Regions from separate parts of the Homo sapiens genome. Here regions 2, 3 and 4 are each reported to be linked to region 1. Evidence: microRNA targets listed by miRTarBase, many of them from high-throughput screens and not tested one by one. Region 1 holds a microRNA gene; each other region holds the end of a gene's coding sequence. Distances are between the middles of the regions.

Region 1 (5,753 bases):
GGGCTGAGCCCTTCATGTGCCCAGGGATAGGCAGCTGGGATTGGCAGGCTATGGCTGGGAATCCGAGCGCAGGACTGGGTGAGGGTGGGTGGAGGGGGCCAGGCTCGAGCAGGTCTGAGAAAGGAAATGGAAGGACAGATAAGTGCTGACCTTGTCCTCCCAGGGCAGGGGAGTGGTGGGAGCAGAATAGGGGTATGGGTGAGGAGAGGAACCAGGGCTGCGGAGAAGGGGAGGGGGGCCAGGCAGGAGAGGGGGGCCTGCAGGGAGCCGTCTCAGGTCTCCTGCCAAAAATTAAACTATAAAAAAGCTGGAGGGGAGCGGCAGGGGAAGGAAGGAGAGAAAGGAGATGGGGAGGGAGGGAGGGACCAAACAGCCCCTCTGCACCAATAGCCCGGCAGGGGGACGTGAGTAATACATGGCTGGTTCAGAGGGAGTGAGATCAAAAGCCAGTAGATACAAGAGGTTTGTGCTTCACCGACCAGACAGCCAGAGGCTCAATGAGACCTTTGTTACTCAGGCCCAAGTCAGGGTTGAAGGAATACCTGGCTGCCCCGCCTGCCCAGCCCGCCCCCACCCCCACCCCCACCGTCCTCAGGGCTGGGGGAGGGGCCGGTCACAAGTGAGTCAAGTTGAGTTGGGTACAGCTCAGCCCTGGCCGGTGGTGGGCGGGCAGGGGGAGGGAGGAGGCCTGCCCTCGCTGGGGCGTGGAGCTTCTCGGGGTGAGTGGAGGAGTGAGTGGCTGCCTGGAAGGCAGGAAGTGGCTCTGCGGGGAATTGTGAGGCGGACTGCGAGGGAAAGGGGGCCTTGTTGAGTCCGCCAGGTGAGCAGCCCCTGGGACCCCCAGCCCCTGGCCCAGCATCCCTTGGGAGGGAGCTGAGGGCATTCTGCCTAGAGTCCATGGCTTTATGCAGGGCCTGGGTCTGGGGTTCTGGGGGCCCATGAGAGAGGAAGGAAAGGAGAACCAGAGGGGGTTGGGGCTGGGGCAGATGGCCCAAAGTTCAGGTGGGAGGCCGCAGGATGCCTGGTTGTTTGGCCCTGAAGGTTGGGCATGTCTGGAGTGTGTGGAGGGGCGTGCTGTGCTGTGCTGTGTGCTGTGTGCTGTGCTGTGCTGTGCTGTTGTTGGGGAATGCAGGATTCCTGTCCAGTGAAAACAGGTTGCTTCTACCAGGGTTGTGCAGGGAGCCAGCAAGTGTTGCCCTGGGGCTGAGGGTACAGTTGGGGTGGGAGAGGCAGCTACTCCCTGGCAGAGGCAGGGCCTGATCTGGGCCTGGGGCCTCTTACCATCTTCTTGGGGGCCCCTGGGAGAGGTCTGAGGCCCCTGGGGCTTTCCTGAGCCTGGGCTAGCAGGAGCCCTAGAAGCCCACTTCTCTGAAGCTGATGCCTGCAGCTGACCCGTCATGGGAGCGGGTGGGGAAATAGCACTTGTGATTAGAACACACCTTTTCCAGGGCCCTGAGACCTTGGTTCGCCTTAACTCAGCTCTTCAATCCAGTCCTAGAGATGTCTGTGCTAACCCCCATGTCCTGCCAATGAGAGCGGCAGGGCACTGCGCACCCCTCCCACAGCCTTGTCAGGGATGGCTCCAGAGTGAGCTGCCCTCAGCTTGGGGAGGTTTCAGCTGAAGCCCTCTTTCTGACTCCAACCAGGTCTGGAGACAGAGATCTCACTCTCCTCTAAACTATGCAAGAATGGGTGTTGTCGGTAACCACCCAGACTGGTCTGGGTAGGTTGGCCCAGCCCCCACCCCTGGGGGCACTCAAGAAACCTATTTAACCCCTCTAAACAAAGGGTAGGTCCTCATCGCTGCCCTCCTTTACCCAGACCCTCCTTTGCCCTCTGTGCTTCCAGTGGCTGGACTAGAAAGAGTTAAGCTTTGTAAAGAGGGAGCCTAACCTGGGGCCCCCCATCCTGGGTACTGGCAGCAGCAGCCTTGAAAAGATCCGGCCTTATTCTCTAGGGAAGGGGTAGTTAAGGACCCTGGGCAGGGGGCTGGAAGCTAATTAAGGGAATTTGAGGAGGTCCTTTATGGCCAGGAAGCCACCCCTCCTCATACCCTGGAGTGAGGACCATTGTGTGAGGCCTTTGTAGGGCAAGAACTGGAAACTCATTACTGGGATGGCTTTAGTGCAGGTGGTGGAAGATGGTGAGAGAATTTAACCTGGGGGGCCCAGTCCTGGAGGGAGGCAGTGTGGGTGGGTCTGGGGTCGGGGGTGCTGAGAAGGGGAGTGAGGGCTTCTCGGGTGCCCCAGCTTCTCGCTTCCCTATGAGATTCCTGCCGCTGGACCCCTCCACTCTGCTGTGGCCTATGGCTTTTCATTCCTATGTGATTGCTGTCCCAAACTCATGTAGGGCTAAAAGCCATGGGCTACAGTGAGGGGCGAGCTCCTTCTCCTGCGCAGCTGCACCTCCCATGGGACCAGGTTCGGAGCCAGCCACCAAGGGGCACCAGAAGGAGGCTTTGCTTGGGGGTGGGGCATCACGGGATCTGGTAACCTGGGATCGGGGCTAAGCCGTGTGACCTTGGCCCAGTCACTTCCCTTCTGGCCCTGTTTCCTCACTCTGGAATGAAGAGACTGGGCCGGTGATTCCAGAGGGAGATTCCCTCTGAGGAAGGAAGGAGACCTTCAGGGTGTGCTGAGCTTTCTGAGTCGGTTCCTTCCCCCTTGCCAAATTACTGAGGCCTGGCTTATGGCCAGAGATTTGGGGGCTGAAGTCAAGGGCCTCAGGCCATGAAGACTTGGGCCTTTGCTCAGTGCCTCCAGGAAAACCTCACTCCTTCACTCCTTTCTCTGAGGTCAGCTTGGAATCTGCAGCCTTTTTTCTGTGTAAGGAGACCTCTGGGCTCTTTCTGAGGCTGAAATGGGAACACTCCATGCCGGCCACGAGGGAAGAGGAGGTGTCTGCAGAGTGAAACTAGGAAGGCAGGCGCTCCCCCGGGCGACAGGCTGGACTCCAGGGTCCCTGGCTCCTGGTGTGCTACCATCTCCAGGAGCTGCCCCCTCCTGCGGTGTGTGAAGGGCACCAGCCCTCCCTGCCCCCGTCCTGCTTGTCACTCAGCTTGCCTGGCTCCTCCCTATGCCTGTCGCCACTCCCACATTCCTTCCCCTGCCCCCTTTTAAATCGGCCTGATTTTAGCCCTCCCATCCTGGAAGATTCCAACAGGTGGCTGTGGTGGAAGAGGAAGCATCCTCGTACCCCGCCTCCTACTCCCTGTTCCAGTCCCCAGTCTGTCTAAGACAGACCACTGAAGAATCACAGAAAGCACTAGATTTGGTATTGACAATCAGAAGGCAAGTTTCTTATAATATCTCAGAGCCCTTAATTTCACCAACCAACACTTACTGGGTACCTACTATGTACCCCATGATTCTAACCGCCTCACCTGCACTAACCCATTTCATCCTCAAGACAGTCCTGTCTACTGTTAGCCTATTTAACTTATGGGAATTCTGAGGCACAGGGAGCTAAGAAATTGGCCCACGTTCATATGGATAGGAAGGAGCACAACTGGGACGTGAACCCACGTGGTCTGGTGCCAAAACCCATGCTCTTAGCACATCATGCTGCATATTGGGAGAGCCAACACCAGTGCATGGGAAAGTACTCTGAAAACCAGGGAGTGCTGTACCCAGACGGGAGGTTGTTCTCACGAGATCTCTATTGGATGCACGTCCACAAATTGGCCCCGTGGCCCAACTCCAATCACCCTTTGTCCATCACTGGTTTTCCTTTTCCCACAGGAGGTCGGGGGGAGCGGGGGGATCAGAACAATAGGAGAAGCAAAGAGAAATCCCAAGCCAGCTGGGTTTTTGCTGGGGCTGATCCAGGCTACTTCCCCTCCTGCCCCAGCTTAGATGGTGAAAGGAACAAGGCATGAGAATTGGCCAGGGTTTCTTACTTGCCCTCTGGGTTCTCTCACCCAGAGTTCAGAGATGGCTGGCACCTTCCTCCACCTCCCTCATTGTCCAGCTGCCCTGGGCCCACAGTGAGCCTATCCTGTTCCCTACCCTGCTCTGAGGCTGTCCAGGCACCTGATTTCCTTCCCTTAACTCCTGATCTCCTAACTGGAAAGCCAGGTTAGAGCCATGCCACCTTCCTGCCCCCTGCAACTGGGCCCCTCCCGGGAATCCTGTTGTTCAGTTTGCCCGGGTAGTCCCCAGCACTGGGCTCAGCCTAGGAGGAAGGGTACAGATGAGCCATTCCAGAGATTATACCTCTGTAAAGCTCTAGCAAGGCAAGGGACTTTGTAGGGATGGCTGAGTAAATGTTTGTTGAATGAAGTACGAACTGGGAGAAAAGATGGATGGGGTAAAAGAGGTAAGTTGCCACCAGCAGGGACATAGAGCAAGCCCACAGCTCAGCAACTCACCCGAGACAGTCCTCGCTTTGCTGGGGCTGGGCCTGGATTGCTTCTGGGGGTTACAAAGGTGGATCTCCATTCTATTCTTTGTCTCTTGGCTACTGCCAATGGGACAGGCCTGGAGAAGATATGTGATTGTATATTTCACATGATTGTTCAATTGCATTGAATAAGCAAGTTGCCCTCATGTCCCTTCTCCCTGGAGGATTCACAGATCAGAGGGCTGTGTGTGTCCTGTCCCCTGCCTGCAGACGGCTGAAACTTTATTCCCAGCAATCTAAGTCTTTTTTACAGTCCTCAGATATACCCAGCATAAGGCCTCCCTTGCGAGAGTGGGCCCATGTTTAACAACACTGAATTCAGATGACTCTCTCTTATTGTATTTGTTCCATTTTTAGTGGAAATAGAGTTTGACTACTAAGCCCTACTCCTTCCTAAATATAAAGACTATTGGGGAAAAAAAGTCTCTCTCCCCATCTTTCGAAAGTTTGACACTAAAGTTTGACCTTTGGGGTTCATTCTGGCGCTGACAGTCTGGTCCACCAGGTTCCCAGCTGCTGCTGCCTGTCACGTTGCCCACTCTTACGGTGGGCCAGCCTCTGCCGAGCCAGGCTGGAAAACACTGAGTGCAGGCCACAAAGACATTTCAGGACTATTGCTGCTCTGACCTCTCCAGCTCCCAAGAATCTCAGAACCACTGAGAATGCTTGGCTGCCCTTGCAGTCTGGAAAAGTGGAGGGAGCTTTCTCCATAGGTGGGCAAGCAAGATACAAGGGTGGCTGGTCTGGCAAGCTAGGGTCTGTGGTCTCTGAAGGCCATTGGAGGCAGAGGCCTTGGCCTGTGATTCCAGAGAGCTCGGTGAGCCAGAGGCTAGAGCTCAGGCTCAAGCAGGCCAAGAAGGAGTTAACCTCCAAGGAGAATGCGGGCTTCTCCCAGACTGGAGGTCTGTGCCCAGTTTTGCTGGTGCCAACTCCGGGAAGAAGTCCTGGGATCTGTAGTTTGTGCCACCACCCACCCCTGGCCTGCCTGTTTATCAACACGGTCTTGTAGACTACAGTTCCCAGAAACCTGCAGAGGCTAGGCTTTGGGGGAAGGGGTGGGGAAGGAGGCTCCGTGGCGGCCAGAGGGAGAGGGAGAGGGAGGAGGTGGGGAGAGAAAACCCAATTCACCCCCTTCGTTTTTAATTCTTTCTCCTGGTGTGTCTGCTCCACCGCCCGAGCTAATCCCCCAAATCCGGTCTCCTAAGCCGCAGCTGCTTCCCTTCGCAGTGATGAATGGCTCAGGGAGGGAAGGTGAATTCATATTTTAATTACTGAGACGCGGTGCTAAGGGAGCCGGGGAGGGGGCGGAGGGCTCAGCTTTGTTCTAGAGGCGTCGAGGGCACACCCTCCTT
Region 2 (5,753 bases), 28 Mb from region 1:
GGAAGCCTTTCCTGCCCCTGACCCCACACATGCCCCTGTTCCTGCCTGCCCCCCAGACTCCTTCATTGTCCTTGTTCATGCCTGTCCTGTCCTGGTCTGCGAGCTCCATGAGGTCAGGGTCCTTACCTGTGGTGCTTCTCTATGCGCATCTCTGTGCCTGGCTCCTGTTTGCCCTTCCACCCCATCAGCGTGTGTTGAGTGGATGGATATTATATGGGCCAAGTAGGAAGGCACTGTGATGGGAGCAGAGATGGCCCTTCCTTTACCCTGGGGCACTCGGGATGGTGTGGTAGTGAAAGAAAAATAAACAGATCATCGGGTAAAGCTCTGGTGAACTCTTTGTTGCTTTTGTTTGATTTTGTAATGGTGTAAGTGTTGGAGAACACACTGCAGTCAGGAGGCCTGAGTAACAGTCTGTACGGAGGCACCCTCACGTCTCTGGCTCTCCCACTTCTCCATGTTTCAAATGAGCACTTGATGTTTGTGGAGAGGCGGGTAGATGACTGAGCATCCCAGAATCCTGGGCGCTTCACTGCTGCTCTGCTGGGTGCCCTCCTGGGCCCCGCTGGCTCCCAGGCTCTCCTCCTCGCTTCACTCCAACAGTTGAGTTCCTTCCATTCAGGACAGGTCGTGCTCAGGGGTCCTGTGTGCCCATCATCCGTCCCGGTGTGCCTCGTCGGACTCACTTCACAGCTCTCCCCATGGTTGGCTGAAATCTGTCTGGGCTCCAAACCCACTTTGACTTTTTGAGCTGTCACTTGGCAGAAACTGATGCTGGGACTCGGTGATTCCTGTCCTGTTTCTGAGTGCTCCTGAAGAGCTGGGCCTCCTGCCTGGGTAACAAAACATACCTCACCCTCTCCCAGCCTTCCAGGCGTTTCTTTTAGAGAGTTACCTAGCACAAGATTGAAGAAGAGGAAAGGAGCTCTGAAGCCTGTTCTCTCACTTCTTCCCACAGGTCACCAAGGAAAACAGAAACCACCTTCTGCCAGATATCGTGACGTGCGTGCAGAGCAGCAGGAAGTGAAGACACGTGCATTCCTGCCTTCCGTGAAGGAGTGCCCAGTTCAAGAGGAGCCTGATGGAGCCCTGCCTGTCGAGGCTGTATGCCTATGGGGTTATGGAACCTTGTGGGCTTTTCTAGAGAAAACTCAACAGCTGTTTCCCATAAAATGTTTAAAAGATCAAATTAGCCTTAATGCTGGATTGTCTGTACAAGATTAACTATCCATTGTGGCTTATCTATGCTTAAAGATTTCTTGTTTATTTCCTCTTGCAGTCATGCACATGATTTGGGTAAACTGTGAGATGAGAAATGGTTTTCAGAGTATTAGATGGAATTCACCCCCGTTGAAGTTTATAAATGTGTTCAGGGGAAGCGGGAGGAAAGAGTTCACTGCCTAATCAGTTTTGCATGTCATGAAAATTAAATTCCTCTCCAGGTGCAGCTTCAGCCTCATGCAACTTAAAGTGATAACAGTTATTTGATTTTTTAAAAAATATTATTCCAAAAGAAAACCATTTTAGGTCATCTCCCCCAACTCTGTTTGCTTACTGCTTAATAAATATAAAAATAAATCTGATGGTTACAGACAGGAGGCATTGTGTGGGAGGAATACACAACCTTTGGAAGTGTTGATAGCATCTGATATTCAGCCGACCAGATGACAAGAGCTCAGGCCCACGGGTTTGCATAAGAGCACTGCTTTGCCTTAGTTTACTCGGGAGCAATTTTGAATCTTTCTATGCCTAGTTTCCCTTCCAGAAAAGCAGGAAGTGGCTGTCATCTCAGGAGTGATGTCACACCACAGAAGGAAACTGTCAACCACTCCACACAACTGTGGAGAGTGCCCAGTGCCAGGGGCTGGGCTTATCAGGAATAATGGTGTAGCAATGCGGAGTTCAGCCCATAACAGGGGTACTATAAAAATGAAGTAGGAAAGTAGAAGAGACCCCTGAAACCCCAGAACTGATAGAGGATAAAAACTTCCCTCCAAGTGGTAGATGGTACTGGAGTGATAAACAGTTCAGTGTTTTTAGGTCATTTTTGGTGAAGATCTATGAATTTCCAGGATTTTTTTTTAACAAATTAGCATTGGCTACAAACCCACTGGTATAAGCAGCAGTGTGCCTTCTCTCTAACTGTGGACAAGTCGGGCATGTGGCGGGTGAGGAGCCCTGGGCTGGGCACTGGGGCACAGTGAATGGGGCGGGAGGGGCTCACATCAAAACCAAAATGGCACGCAGCCCAGGTCTGGTTCCTCCATCAGTGTCTCTTTCCTCAGCGCTTTTCTTCCGAGGTAACTTTGTGAAGCTTGACTTGGACTTGCCTAGCCTTGGAGGGACCACAACAGGGAGGCCTAATAGATTATGAACTAAGCCCTCAAAAGGGCTACCTGCCCAGGAGGAGGAAGTGGGCATCTCCTTCCACAGTCCCTGCCTGGCGGGGCTGTTCAGGGAGACTGAGTTCCGAGCTCAGGATGTCTGGCAGGCTGGCTGTGACTTCCAGCCACCATCACCAGGACACCGGTGTGGGCTGCATGCCTCAGTGGGCCAGGAGAGGCACGGCCTCTGAGTTGGGTAGAGGCTTCCCACAAAGGCCTGGGAACCTGATCCTGGCCGTAAATCTGAAAGTACCACAGCCCTCAGGAGAACCAAGAGATAGGGAGGCAGGCTGGGGAAATGTCATCAATGTGCACCCAGGCGTGGTGGAGCTGGTCAGCCCCAGCTGGAGTGGGACCCCATCAAGATGGAGCCTTTCCTGGCACCTCCGGGAGGCCGTTTTGCGTTTCCGCCCTTCATGCATCTGAAACACCAAGGGCCATGTTCCTTCTGGTGCTTGTCCTTTTGAGCTTGGTGTTTCAGCCGTGTCTGTTTTGTAGACTTTGATTTTGTCTTAAATGAGAAAGAAAGCTGGTGAAGGTTATTTCAAAGTTAAATAGCTAGTCTGAGGGGCTTATCACTGAAGCCAGTTGTGCTTATGTGGGGTGGGAGTGTCACTGCCTACTTGAAAGTATGCACTTGTGTGGAACAGATTCAGGGTGGCCCCTAGCACTTGGGGCTGCGGGAGCTTCTGCACACTTTCCCTTTAACGGTAAAGAGACAAGCTTGGAGTGTTTAAGTGGTTCGTTCAGGAGCACAGTGATAGCGGTGACAAAGGAGATTTGAACCCACGTCTGCGTGGCTCCAAAGTTCACTCTTTCATCACTCCCTGCTGCGTCCTTCTTGAGGCTTTAGCATTTTTAGTGTGTTTTGTGCCCCCAGACCTCAGAGTTGACATTTAGCAGTGATAAACTGCTGTAAATCCAAAGAACGTTTAGTGTCTCTTGTGGTGAGGTCCTGAAATGATTGTTGTATTAGTCAAACAGAATGATCATGGAGCATGTATGGAGATGTCAGATGCAATCCCTGTATTGTAAGGCAATGACATTTAATGAAGGATAAGATGAATTCACAGATAACTAGAACTCAGGGCCAAACGCACACAGCCTGTAGCAACAGTGTCATGCTGAGATTTAAAGGAAGAAGAGGTGCCGTGGCAGAACTCCACGTGACCGTCCCCTCCCTGCACGCAGCCAGGATGAGAGGAGCAGAGCTGAGCGCCACCTCCCTGTCGGTGCCACGGCTGAGGTGAGGAGCTCTTGCCGGATGGTGGGGTGGGGGCAGCAGGGCAGATTGAAGTCAGGGATTCTCTTATACCTGAGTTTGGAATGCCTCCTATTCAAACAAAGCAAAATATCTAACAGATGGTTGGATATGAGTCTCAGGGAGGAATTCAATTTGAAAAGCACAGAATTAACATGTATTGCTTATATGAAGAATCTCAGCTAGAATAACAAGGTCGGATGGGAGGAATCAGGACTGATTTGAAGCACGATTTACTAAATCATTCTTTCCTTTTCCTCCTTAGCAGATCATACCGCCAGCTGCTTAACACGTAATAGTTTAATAAATTGTTTCTTCTTACCTCTCAGTGAGGGTAAGCACATGCAGGGAGATGGGTGAGTCTTTTAAATGGATAGTGTCATCTCTGATGATCAGCCTTGACAGGGAGAGATCCTAGTAAAGCTGCAAATTCAGGCACTCAGTTCCCAGCCCTCCAGTTATCAAGGGGGTGGGAACGCTGGTGGGCTGGAAAATGTGGAACAGACCTGCTCCTCTTCTTTTCCTGCCAATTACCGTATTCATAGAAGGTTGTGTCTGTGGATCACACCTGTGTGTGTGCTGATGGCGGATGCTTGTGTAGCATAGTGACTTGGGACAAAACAGCATGGTAGATGAGGCTGGAGACGGGTGGGCTAAGTAAACAGGCATTGCATTGCACATTTTGTGGGCAAAGAAGTTGAAGCATCGCATGATTTTAACAAATTACTTGCCAGATGATTTCAACACACTGCAAAATTTAGAATCAATAATGCCAAATTGGCCACATGATTTATATAAAACCAAGTGCTATGGTTTTAATATTATCTTTAGAGGAGAAACCATTTTGATCTGTGTCCAAATAACTCTTTTTTTTTTTTTTTTTTTTGAGACAGAGTCTCACTCTGTCGCTTGAGCTGGAGTGCAGTGGTGCTATCTCGGCTCACTGTAACCTCCGCCTCCTGGGTTCAAGCGATTCTCCTGCCTCAACCTCCTGAGTAGCTGGGATTACAGGCACCCGCCACCACGCCCAGCTAATTTTTTGTATTTTTAGTAGAGACGGGGTTTCACCATGTTGGCCAAGCTGGTCTCGAACTCCTGACCTCATGATTTGCCTGCCTCAGCCTACAAAAGTGCTGGGATTACAGGCGTGAGCCACCGTGCCCAGCCCCCAAATAACTCTTGAACTGGAAAATAACTCTTTAGCTATATACTGGCAGAATATTTGAACAACTCTAGCAAGAAATGTCAGTTTAGGGATGCCTCCTCTAAATGGGGGCTTAGAATATAACATTTTGCAGGAAGTCCTTTCTGATACATAGCTGACTAGATGAAGGACCAGATTAACAAGTTCATGAGTTGTAAATATAAAAGTTGTGTACCACGATAAAAAAGAAAAAGAAGTATGGCTGCACTGTTGATGGCTGGTCAAACAGCCCCCAAGAATCCTGGGGTGACTCCAATACTGCCACCTTTTCTCTGTGGGTGCAGTTGCCTGCGGATGTGTGTGCACATCTGTGCCTCGGTATGCACACTCGAGATGCCCGCTCTCATAGACGGTGCAGAGCGTCACTGCATTCCTATCTGATTAATGTGACCTTAGTGTTGTAGATACACTGTGTCACTTTCATCCTCCCTCCTCCCCACAAAAGATGCCACGAGAACTCGTGAACTGTGATAAGCAATGAACAGAATAACTGTTGAAGAAGCACCTCATGAACCTCCCCAGAGAAACGGGATGGAGGAGCACCCAGGGTGCTCTTGCTCTCTTGCCTGCGCTGCCATTTCCTTCCAGCCTGGGTTTCTAGCTCTTTGGGGAGATTCCCCGTTTTGTGGAATGCTTTCTGTGTTTCCTACTTCTGGATGCCTAAGGAGTGGCCAGTCATACTCCTGGCTGACCACTGCCAGGCACCGTGGTTTTCCTCACTGAACTCAAGGAGTCACCCTCCGTGGGGAGGCCACACTCACAGCTCCAGGCCTGCCATTTAGCCCTTGGGGCTTGGCTGTAAAGTTGCCCAAGAGGATTACAGGAGCTGCCAGCCAAGTTTAATTTGGCCACCTTAGAGAACTGCAGCAAGGCCCTATCAGCTTCCCATTAGACAAACAACTGC
Region 3 (5,641 bases), not on the chromosome of region 1:
CAAAGCAGTAAAGGAAAAGATTCCTAGTCATCATTTTATGCCAGGAAGTCCTACCAAGACTGTGTACAAAAAACCCCAGGAAAAGAAAGGGTGTAAATGTGGGCGTGCTACTCAAAATCCAAGTGTTCTTACATGCCGAGGCCAACGCTGCCCTTGCTACTCTAACCGCAAAGCCTGCTTAGATTGTATATGTCGTGGCTGCCAAAACTCCTATATGGCCAATGGGGAGAAGAAGCTGGAGGCATTTGCCGTGCCAGAAAAGGCCTTGGAGCAGACCAGGCTCACTTTGGGCATTAACGTGACTAGCATTGCTGTGCGTAACGCTAGTACCAGCACCAGTGTAATAAATGTCACAGGGTCCCCAGTAACGACGTTTTTAGCTGCCAGTACACATGATGATAAAAGTTTGGATGAAGCTATAGACATGAGATTCGACTGTTAAATCAGTGGGTCTTTTAAACCTACTCCTGGTAGGGAAATAGCTACAGTTTTACGGCAGCTATGGTTCTGTTGGTTTAACTTGCCGGAGCTCCTGCATATAGATCACTTGTATCAAGTGTTTTCATTGCTAAGTTATATGTGTTAGTGTCGGGGAAATAGTTTGCAGATAATGGAGGAGTAACCCTACAACTATATGTCCTTAGTTCTTACAGAACCTCATAGTTTGAGAACAAAGCTGATGCAACTGATTTATACAAAATGAACTTTGGCAAGAAAAATAACATTAACCTCATTGTTTATGGCCATGCTTTGTGCATAATCAAAGTTTATGATTAAATGTAAGGAAGTGGTATCTAGTCAGTCCATAAAGATTGTGCTAATTTTTTTGTGGAAAAGTAGCCATTAGTTCAGGAAACTCAGTGCTGCCTTCAGATGTCATTGATGTTTCTCCTGTTGGAAAGCTGATGTGTCCAGCTCAACCTTTGTGCTGACATCATACCATTTCTGATCATGAAATATTGGCTACTGGTGTATGTAGCAGTTCTTAAATCAGCAGTATTATGAAAAAAAATTCCCCCTCATTAGAATGTTTAAGAAATCTTTTTAAAAAGTAAAATTCTGTCAGACTACAAATGTTTAGCTGTTACTCATTTCTAGGGAAGAAATTCTAAATCCCTCCTTCACTTTGAGCAGTGTTCTAATTGGATAAATGAAGGAGAGTAGTTTTATTCTGAAGGTAATTAAATTTAGACTATGTAGTATGTGACAGAATTTTTTTAAAATTATAAAAAGATTTTATTTAGTAATTGGGATTTACTTAAAATAATTTTGGAATAATGCTCCCAGACTTGCCCAGATTTGTGTATTGTACTTATTGCCACTGGCCGCCACTTTGACTTATTTTCTCTAATAGTTTATTTGCCACAGTCTTTATTTTGAATATGCTCCTAGTTTTTTTTTAGGGTGCTGTTCATTATGAAGGCTTCTTTATAGAGGCCTAATAAGAATGCCTTTTTATAAAGCCTGTGCATTTAGGTAGGTTGAAGCTAGGAGGATTTTCTTTAGAATGCTCTTTTGCATGTAAAGCACAAAGTATGTTTCAGTTTAAATGCACTTCTTCCGGTTAATTTTTATGGGGAAGACAAGTGAGTCACAAACATTCTGTTGAAGGGAAATCTAGTCAGTTGCTTGAAAGAGCACAGCCCAAATAAAACAAGGACTGACTAGGTGTAATGAAATAACCTGTGATTTAAAAGAAGAGCTGCAGCTTTGACAGTGCTTATTTAAAGAAAAATACTGCTGGAAAATTTCCAATTTCTACTACGTTCACCATCTCTAGTAAGATCTGACATATGCTGAAGTTATGTTTTGATTTGGCACACAGCATGTTCAATGATGGTTACTCGCCTAGTACAAGACATGGAGAAGAAACCTTTGGACACAGAGCAGATGACACCTCCTTCTGTTTTGTAGTGTATCCTGGTGTCATTTTCTGTGAATGTGGTCAGGTAGAGTTGTTTTTGTTGTTGTTGTTGGGCTTTTTTTTCTTTTTTTTTTTTTGGTCTCTTTTGGTGGGGTGGGGGTGGGCTAAAGCCATAGGAAGAAAAATGTGATGTATGTGTCCAGTATGTACTATTTTGTTTTTGTTTTGCAAGAAGAGTTGAACTATTTTTGATAACAAGAGTAAATGGTGGAAAATGCTTCTTAGTTGTCTTGTCTTTATTTGCTTTCCAAGATTTGGAATTTTATTTAATTCCTTTAAGTGTTAGCAGTGTCTTATGAAACGTGTATTTACCTAACGTTTGTAACAGTTTTGTGTTGAACCCAGATGCCCTGCTATATAAAGTTGTAAATCTGTTCTTTATTCACTAATGATCACTGCAAAAATGATTAGAAATGAGATTGTACACATGGATGAGGATATATTTTGCAAATCGACCAAACTTTCCTAATATTATGATCTTAAAATTCATAGAGTACTTTATTGCTTCCCAAGTTTGATAATCTTGTGGGTTTTTTTTTTTTTTTGATGCATGGGAGGTTGGCAATATAGACAAAGTGGAAATCATTAGTATGTGAGGGCCTTGATTGTTATGTAATATTGCCAATGATGAATTCAGGTTGTTTTTAGCACAAGTTTCTCTTTTTTATGCTGGTATTCTCACTGCCACATTTTTGGAAACCTGTATTACACCTTAAATCTATCAATAAATGATAGTTTTCTAATTCTATGTTGTAGAATACTGAAGAGTTTGGGATAGCATGCTCTGAATGGTCTGTATTATATACATCTGGGGAAGAGTAATCACAGTGCCTTGATTTTTATATTATTTTTCTTTATACCACGAGTTACTTAGGAATGCTGACAAATGGCTAACGAGGGATGATTGAGAGATTATTACTGAAGTAACTGGATTTACTTCATCAGGATTTGAAACCACCAAAGAACAGCAGCATTTAATAAGACACATCCTGAATTGTTGAGTCCTTGTTATTAATATAAATGATCAAATGATCTTTTACCTTAGGTAATAGTTTTAGAGCTGACAATTTTATCTTTTTGGTTAGCCTTATTAAGTCTGCATTTCCGGGAGGAGGTGTAGTATGGTCCTAGGGATAAAGAATTCCTTTTATTTCATTGTATTCTTAGTTAAAACAATTTATTGGTGACCTTGTTGAAGAAGAGTAAAAGTTTTATGGGAATCAGATGAAAAATAAATTGTCCATAACCATATCATAGATAAAAAACAGAAATGCTTTAGAAAATACTAAGTTCAAAGTATGGTATTTTATACTTTTCTCTTTTTAAAAAAATTAAAAGCTAGGCACAGTGGTGTGTGCCTGTAATCTCAGCTACTTAGGAGGCTGAGGTGGGAGGATCACTTAAGCTCAGGAGTTCGAACTCAGCCTGGGCAACATAGACCTTGCCTCTGAAATAAAATTTAGGTACCCCAAAACATGCCGTTACACATTCTTTTAAAATAATGCATTATAGATGAGGCTAAAGTCTACCTTGATTCCTGTGAACTCCGCCTCATTCACAAACCCTGGTCCTCTTCCCTATCCCCTGAAGAAATCATTTCTCAGTATATTGTCATTACTACAAAGACCTTTCTTTGTAGTTTTCACATGGGCTCAAAGAGTTATTCTCTGACATTCAAGCTTGTTTACAGTGTTACTCTTGCAGACAAAAAAATGAGGTGCAAATATGATTAAAAGCACAAGTGTGTAGTAATTACCTTAATGAACATGATTCATATTTGACAACTTTATTTAGTTTTGCTAAAAGGGAAAAACAAAGTCATGCAGCCTTCTCCAAACACATCTTAACATTTCAAAAAGCTGAGCAAATCTCATTTGATGAATCTAGAGTTTTATAAACACTTTGAATGGTACACAGTGACAAGATGCAGGGAAGATATATGGAATTTTATTAGTTTGATTACCTTGGTAATGTTATGCTATTAAACTCATTTCTCATTGAATTAGCATTAAGGTCATGATAACCCTCAGCTTTTATCAAGGGGCCTGGGATATTATAATAACTTGAAAATTCCAGTTTGGCAGTAATGATTATACTTAACCATGATCTTTACCAGAAAGTCAAATATATTCTACCTTAATTCCTCAGAATTCACATTCCTTGCATTCAGCTCCAAGGAAGGAGTACAATAAAACACATTCTTATAATTCCTGAAAATGTGATAATGTGGGTAAATTACAATAGCCCATTTTAAATGGAATGGTATTGATGGATGTACTTTTATAATAGAGACTTTGTAAGAGAATGGGGTCTTGCTCTGTCGCCTAGGCTGGAGTGCAGTGTCGTAATCATAGCTCACTGCAGCCTCGAAGCCTGGGGCTCAAGCGATTCTCCTGCCTCAGCCTCCCAAGTTGGTAGGACTACAGATGTGCACCACCATGCCCAGCTAAATTTATTTTTTGTAGAGACGGAGTCTCACTATGTTGCCCAGGCTGGTCTTTACTCCTGGGCTCAAGTGATCACCTCCCTTGGCCTCCCAAAGTGCCGGGATTACAGGCATGAGTCACCATGCCCAGCCAATAATTAAGAGACTTCAAAAACCAGATCAAAGTGAAAGCAAGAGGACTTCAGTAAGGAGAACCAAGGTAAAAAGGTAAAGCCAAATAGTTAAAAAAAAAAATGTATATTGTAAAATTGAATTTTTACTTTTTGGTGAATCTTATTAGTTTAGATCATTATGGATAATAAAACATTTAAACCATATCTGGCTTCTAAGAAAAGTATTTTTTTTTTTTTTGTATTTCTATCTGAAATGAAATAATTGCTTTTCTTCCCTGGTAAAGGCTGGATGGATTGGTAGGAGATTTCATTTATCACATAAATAATCTTAATCTTAATAATTTATCAGTGTGTTTAGATTTTGAATATTGTGTTTCCTAAAAATTATTTTTAAGCTTTTAATTCTTTTGTGTGAACTATTAGATAGTTGCAATAGTTACTGCTTTCTGTAATAGTTAAATGGAAGATCAGTTCTAATCATGAAGATAAAATGACAGGGAACTGGGAGCTTGTGACAGGCAGGATTCCTAGGATTGTTAACTCTCACTGTACTGTACCTTGTTTATAGCATATTTATTTCCTAAATTCTCCTTTTCTTTTTGCCTACCATAACTCTAACCCAAGGTTCATTTCACTGCTTGGCCTTTATGCCAGCAAGGAGGGAACCTAGGTAGGGTGGAAAGGGAAGCTATTCTTGACACTTTCAGAACTAGTTAAAAAAAAAATCTAGGGGAAAAGTTGATGACTGACAGATGGATATTAAGTTGCTTGGGGGTTTTACTTACATCAGAAATGTCTATCCTTTTTAATAGTTTCTTTTCAAGGATATTATAGGATTTGGCTGGACTGTGGCCTGCTGAAAAATGTAGGATTCTGTAGTGAATACATCTACAACTACAGTAAATAACAGCTTTCTTTTATAGCTGTATCATTTTCCATTTCCTTGATAAATACTGAGGTGGATGAAATATCTGTAGTAATTGTTTTCAACATGAAGTAAAGAATAACGTTGAGGCCTTTACTATTAGCTAGTCTAATACTCCTGGGAGGAAGGAATATATCTATCTAGTAAGAATTTTAATGTATCATTATTCCTTTATGTCTTCAAGCAGGCCTTCTGATAGGAAGTGAAAACAGTTATCAACTAATTTGGATATT
Region 4 (5,753 bases), not on the chromosome of region 1:
TGAAGTGTCTGTGGATGGAGAGGAGAGGGTGAGGATAGGGCAAGGATGCGCCTCATGGAGTAGGAAGTGGAAAATGGGGGATGCTTTAATTTGGATTCCTCTAGAGAAACTGACTCTGAGTCAGGGATTTGCGTCTTATATGAACACTGGAAAAAAGGTGGGGGAGTGGGACAGGGCAGGGAAGGCCTCTAATAAAGAGTACTTAACCAAGCAGCTGCTGTGCACAACAAGAGCCTAATCCCAACGGGGAGAGTCAGATCTAGCATAAAACACACATCTGAAGGGCAAAGGAGCCCGCATAGTTACACACCAACTCCAATTGGTTATCAGTAGAGGGCTGCCTGCTGTGTGTGGCATAGAGGGCTCTAGTGACAAGAGAAAGGCCTCAGCCTCCCACCCACAGAAAAGGAGGTGCTGATGATGTGTGCAGGTGGAAATGACACAGGCAAGAGGACACAGGCAGGGGCCCGACAGCATCTGCTACAGAGGATAGAGTGGGGGAACAGGCATCCTCAGACCCCTTGAGGAGAGCAAGCATCTTGATCTCTTTAGCCACAAATGGGAGTCTCCTAGAATCCTCATCCTCACTGATGAACAGATTTGGGGGCATAATGGAGGAGAGGTACCAAAGTAGAGAGATGTTCCCCTCTACCTGGGGACGTCCTCCTCTTAACTCCGGATGTCACACTTGCTTCTGTGGCCGGGTCTGTAAGGAAGAGGGTGGCCGTCTACCCCGGGAAGGGCACGCTCTCAGGGTTTCTGCTGCTGGTCCGATCCCAACGTGGGTTAGGATGGGGGACCTTGGTGCTCACCCGCTTCCACCCTGTCCCTTCTTCTCAGGCACCAGGATGTTTACTCCACTGTGCTTGGGGTGGTGCTGACCCTCCTGGTGCTGATGCTGATCATGGTCTATGGGTTTTGGAAGAAGAGACACATGGCAAGTGAGTAGAGCCCACCTCCCAGCCTCCTGAGGGCAGAGCTCTGGGTAACTGCACTAAGGGTTATGACCTCGAGTCCCCACGTGGTATGGCCCTTGGCCTGTGTCCAGTCAAAAGGACTATGACGCTTCCACCTGGGGAGGAGGGCGGCCAGGCGGAGACCACCCAGCACAACCCTAAGGGGATGACCTGGAAGGAACCAGAGGCAGAGCCAGAAAGGGGCTGGGGCTGGTGGAGGAGCATCGGGGCACCGTGGGCAGGGCAGGACACTTCCTCAGCTCTCCCTGTTTCTTGCAGGCTACAGCATGTGCAGCGATCCTTCTACACGTGACCCACCTGGAAGACCAGAGCCCTATGTGGAAGTCTACTTGATCTGAGGCCACTTAAGCATGGGGTGGGGAGCTTCTCCCAGAGTGGCCCCAGGGGGTTAGAGGAGGGGTGAAGATTGGGGCCAGTATCGATCTTATGAAGCTGGAGGACTTGTGCAGTGCTGGACTCACCCAGGACTTCCCAAACCCAGAGGCTGCCATCCTAAGCAGCCCCACAGCCCAGTGTTCTCCTTGGGGGCAGGAACCTGGGGAGGGGCCCAGAGCAAAGGGCATCAGGGAGAAAGTCCCGAGGAAATGTGACCAGTGGTTTCTGCTCGGAGCTGCAGACCCCAGGGCTCTTGGTGGAGGCAGGGGAACCCTGAGAGTGCTGTTTACAGAGAACCTCAGCTCCCGTCTGCCTCAGAAACCCTATTGGGCTGAGCTGCCCTCCCCACCAGGGCCACTGTGTCCTCTGCTTCCCTCCGTTCTGCTTCAGCTTCCCCTAAGGTTAGGGAAGAAAGAATCGGGCTCACGAATGCCAGAGGCAGTGATGTCCCATCCTGGAGGAGAGGAAACAGTGACTAAAAGCTGGGGACCCACAGAGGGGTTGGCAGCTTCTCTTGTCGGGACAGGTGTCCTTTGCTGGGCCTCTGGATGGCCCTGCCCTGACTGGGGCTGCTCCTCCCTCCTGTCCTGGGACCGCGCAGAGCCCACGCTCTCACTGCTGCCTCCTGCTGGCCGCTGCCTCCTTAGAAAGCTGTGACCAGGCAGCTAAGAGCCTCTGGGCTGCAGGGTCAGCCTCTCCCAAGACTGAAGTGCAGAGGCTGGACTTGGGGCTCTCTCCCCCAGCTTCTACACCTGGGCTCCAAGTCTGAGTTCCCACAGGGGACCCAGCAGCCTCCAGGAAGTCCATACCCTGGGGTGGCTGAGACCTTGGCTCTGTATGGAGGCTGCTCACCCCACAGACACTGGTGGGGAGACCATGGCTCAGAGGAAGGGTGGAGCAACCCTCCTCCTACCCCTCAGGATAGAGAGAGAAGACACACTTGGGACACAGTGAAGACAGTAACTTGGAACTGACCACGGCCTGGAGGACTGGCCCAGGCAGGGGGACAGGGAAAATGGAGCCCAAGTAGCCTCTGGCCAGGGACCCAATGTCCCGAGGAATCTGCCTCCCACCCACTGACTCAGGGCTCAGACTCAGCCTCTATTGTCCAGAGCACTGGCTTGGCGTCCAGCAATGAAGGCTGGAGAATGCAGCCTGGATTCCCCTACACACACACACACACACACACACACACACACACACACACACACACACACACAGGTGTCTACTGACCTGGAGTGACTGGAATAGCACCTGGGGATAAATGTGACAACTGTGCATTGAACCCTGGGTCAGGGACGTTCCAATGGCCAAGAGAGTGACACAGCCAGGACCCTGGTGGACAGCCAGAGGGGCCACTTCAGGATGGATGTGGGGAGAGTGGAAGAGGCAGGGAGTAATCCTGGGGGACAGCAGGGAGGAGGCACTTCTTCCCTATGTCCAGGAGAGGGCAATAGAGGGAAGACTGAGGCTGAAGAATTGACGGCTCTGGACCCAGGACAGACAGACAGACAGACAGACAGACAGACAGACAGACACGCACACACACCCATCTCTGTCTAGCAAGCAGCCTCCTAAGATAGCTGTTCTCCCTATCATGACGGTGTAGCCACCATCCTGTTGTATACTAGGAGAGAACTTAACCCACCTGGGGGAAAATAGCTCCCCAAGAGCTGGCACCAGTACCACTGATGGCCCTGCTTCCTCTGAGTGAGATGCCCAGGAGGAGGAGCCCTAGGGAAGAAGTCAGGGACAGGGACCAGGATACCACTCTGTCACTGTGTGACCCTCAGCAAGTCACTAACCCTTGGCCTCATTTTTCCTGTCTTGTGAAAGAGGACAATAATTCCTACTTCTCAAGATTGTTTTCAAGATAAAATAACATTAGCATTGTACAATGATGCAAATGCCTCATTACCATTATTCCTTAAGTTGTTTTCCAGCTCTAATGTTGTTTCCAACATTACATTTAAGACCTTAGGATTCTGTTTCTTGCTTTTGTCATATCTCTTCCCAAGTGTCATCACTATATGGATGTTGAGGGCCCCCGATGACAGTCCCTTTGGTAAGGTCCTCTTTTGAGGAGGGGAGGGTACAGGGTGGACTCATCTCAGTGTGAACTTGGCAAGTCACTGTCCCTCTCTGATCTTGTTTCCTCATCTGGAGAAGGAGTGAGAGAGGAGAAAGGAAGAAACCAGTCAGGCAGGCAGTTAGGGTGGGTTCTCGGTAGAATTCTTTTAAACAAAAGAACAGCCTGAAAAATCAAGCTGCAGGCACAGATATGGGAACTTGCACAGGGGGGCTTGCCTAAGACATGCCCACAGCCTCATAGATAAGACAGACTACACAGGTGACTTGCCCAAACATGCCTGCAATGGAAAATTTCATCCCCTGACATGTGCAGTAAGGGGAACAAAGCAATATGGAGTAAGTAACTCAAGCCAAGGGCCCACATGTACATTAGAAGGACAGCAGGGAGCTACCAGAAATTCATGCCTTATGCAGATGAGCTGCCCAGTCCTCATCGGTTTCTTATAAAAGCCTTTACATTCAACTGTAAAAATGGCAACCCTCTTTCAGGCCTCCTCTCCACAGCAGAGAGCTTTCTTCTCTCACTCATTAAACTTTCACTCCAACCTCATCCTTGGTGTCCACGCTCCTTAATTTTCATTGTTGTGAGACAAAGAACTCCAGTGATACCTCAAACAATGAGAGACTGCTACATTGTGGTGCACTGGTGAGACTGTAACAGGAGGGTGGAGAGGAGCTCTGAAGCCTCTTCTGACTTCCTTGGGTATGTGTGTCAGAGGTGTTTAAACCAGATGGACTCCATCTTGTATAGAGGCTGAGTAAAATAAGGCTGAGACCTACCGGGTTGCCTTCCCAGATGTTAGGCATTCTAAGTCACAGGGTGAGATAGGTTGACACAAGATACAGGTCATAAAGACCTTGCTGATAAAACAGGTTTGCAGTAAAGAAATCAGCTAAAACCCACCAAAACCAAGATGGCAATGAGAGTGACCTCTGGCTGTCCTCACTGCACATTATATGCAAATTATAATGCATTAGCATGATAAGAGACACTCCCACCAGCACCATGTCAGCTTACAAATGCCATGGCAACATCAGGAAGTTACCTTATATGGTCTGAAAAGAGGAGGAACCCTCAGCTCCAGGAATTGCCCACCCCTTTCCTGGAAAACTCATGAATAATCCACCCCTTGTTTAGCATATAATCAAGAAGTAACAATAAATATAAGCAGCTAAGCAGCCCATGTTGCTGCTCTGCCTATAGAGTAGCCATTCTTTATTCCTTTACTTTTTAAATAAACTTGCTTTCATTTTACCATATGCATTTACCCTGAATTCTTTCTTGCATGAGATCCAAGAACCCTCTCTTGGGGTCTGGATCGGGATCCCTTTCCAGTAACATGTGCAGAACAGTTGCATGGACACAGCTCAGCATTAATGAGGTGGGGCACACCGGAAAAGAACAAGAACCAGCCCTGGCCTCAATCTGCTCACAGCCTCTGAGGGAAGGGAGACATGGCACTGCTGGGTACACCCCAGACCTTAGCACAGGGTAAGACACCACAGTGCAAGAGATAGGAGGTTCTCAAGTCCTTCCAAGATGGGGAACTGGGAATCCTGCAGGCTCTGGCTAGCCAGGCAGGCTTCAGGGAGGAGGTGGGGCTCTATCTGAGGCGCAAACCACAGGGTGGAGTCAGGAGGTGAGATCTAGGTGCAGAGACTGCACAGGCCATGGCAGCTGGGAGCCATGGGGAGGCTTGACGAGAAGGGCTGTGGAGGGTGGAAGGGGACATGGCCACTCACCAGCTGGTTGCTGAACCCAAGCAGAGGCCTTTAGCTGTGTCCTGAAGTAGAGCACGGTAGCTGTGAGGGTGACCAACTGTCCCTGTATGCCCCTGAGGGGTTCCTGGAACCAAGTGAACCAGCACAATTTGCTCACCCTAGGAGCCTGCTCCCATATGAACTCCCATGGTAAGGACACGGGGGCTGAGGAGCTATAGACCAAGCCCCATATCCCCAGCCCCAACTGGACACTTTCCTAAACACACCAGCCTTTCACTTCCTCCCTCCTCTCTCAACCTTCTTCTCGAAGCTCCAGGGACCCAGATCCACAGCAGATCCACGGCAGGAAGGTGCAGGGCAGGTGGGGCATCGGACAGGCTGCTCACTTTAGCAGGTGAGACAATAAAGCTTCCTGAGCAACAGGCTGTGGACATAGAACACACACCTGGGAAGGGCTGGCCATCATGGCCAATGGAAGAACAAATAAAGTAAATCCAGTACCTCCTGGATATACACACACCTGCATGGAGCCCAGCAAGCAGGCATTAGGTTTACAGTTCTCTTCAATGGCTGCAACATGCTTTCACT

Evidence for each region. The annotated mature microRNA hsa-miR-135b-3p reads AUGUAGGGCUAAAAGCCAUGGG and lies in region 1 at 2,344-2,365, shown strand. An mRNA with a match to its seed (bases 2 to 7 or 8) in the 3' UTR can be bound and repressed. Matches are read on the target gene's strand: a 7mer-m8 pairs with bases 2 to 8, a 7mer-A1 pairs with bases 2 to 7 and ends in A, and an 8mer does both.
Region 2: miRTarBase lists NTPCR as a target of hsa-miR-135b-3p. Seed matches in the 3' UTR shown: 7mer-A1 at 4,767-4,773.
Region 3: the mRNA of MSL2 is a reported target of hsa-miR-135b-3p. Seed matches in the 3' UTR shown: 8mer at 623-630.
Region 4: miRTarBase lists TREML2 as a target of hsa-miR-135b-3p. Seed matches in the 3' UTR shown: 7mer-m8 at 2,516-2,522.

What each region holds. Positions count from the first base shown.
Region 1 is chr1:205,444,935-205,450,687 of GRCh38, reverse strand. It overlaps MIR135B (microRNA 135b), which reads left to right and starts at 2,290; the gene lies at 2,290-2,386. The region is part of intron 1 of BLACAT1 (BLACAT1 overlapping LEMD1 locus); the gene reads left to right. It also overlaps a transcript of LEMD1 not described here. RefSeq lists a silencer at 496-705 and enhancers at 4,396-4,907, 4,908-5,419.
Region 2 is chr1:232,977,205-232,982,957 of GRCh38, forward strand. It overlaps NTPCR (nucleoside-triphosphatase, cancer-related), which reads left to right. Exons shown (of 5, transcript NM_032324.3): 5 at 959-5,753. The coding sequence ends at 1,027. Among named protein-coding and RNA genes, the nearest start is that of NTPCR, 29 kb to the left of the region's middle. RefSeq lists an enhancer at 550-1,749.
Region 3 is chr3:136,145,948-136,151,588 of GRCh38, reverse strand. MSL2 (MSL complex subunit 2) reads left to right here. Exons shown (of 2, transcript NM_018133.4): 2 at 1-2,672. The coding sequence ends at 442. PPP2R3A (protein phosphatase 2 regulatory subunit B''alpha) reads right to left here. Exons shown (of 14, transcript NM_002718.5): 14 at 3,695-5,641. Among named protein-coding and RNA genes, the nearest start is that of MSL2, 48 kb to the left of the region's middle.
Region 4 is chr6:41,187,989-41,193,741 of GRCh38, reverse strand. It overlaps TREML2 (triggering receptor expressed on myeloid cells like 2), which reads left to right. Exons shown (of 5, transcript NM_024807.4): 4 at 841-941; 5 at 1,236-3,993. The coding sequence ends at 1,315. Among named protein-coding and RNA genes, the nearest start is that of TREML2, 10 kb to the left of the region's middle. RefSeq lists enhancers at 2,204-2,273, 1,892-2,399.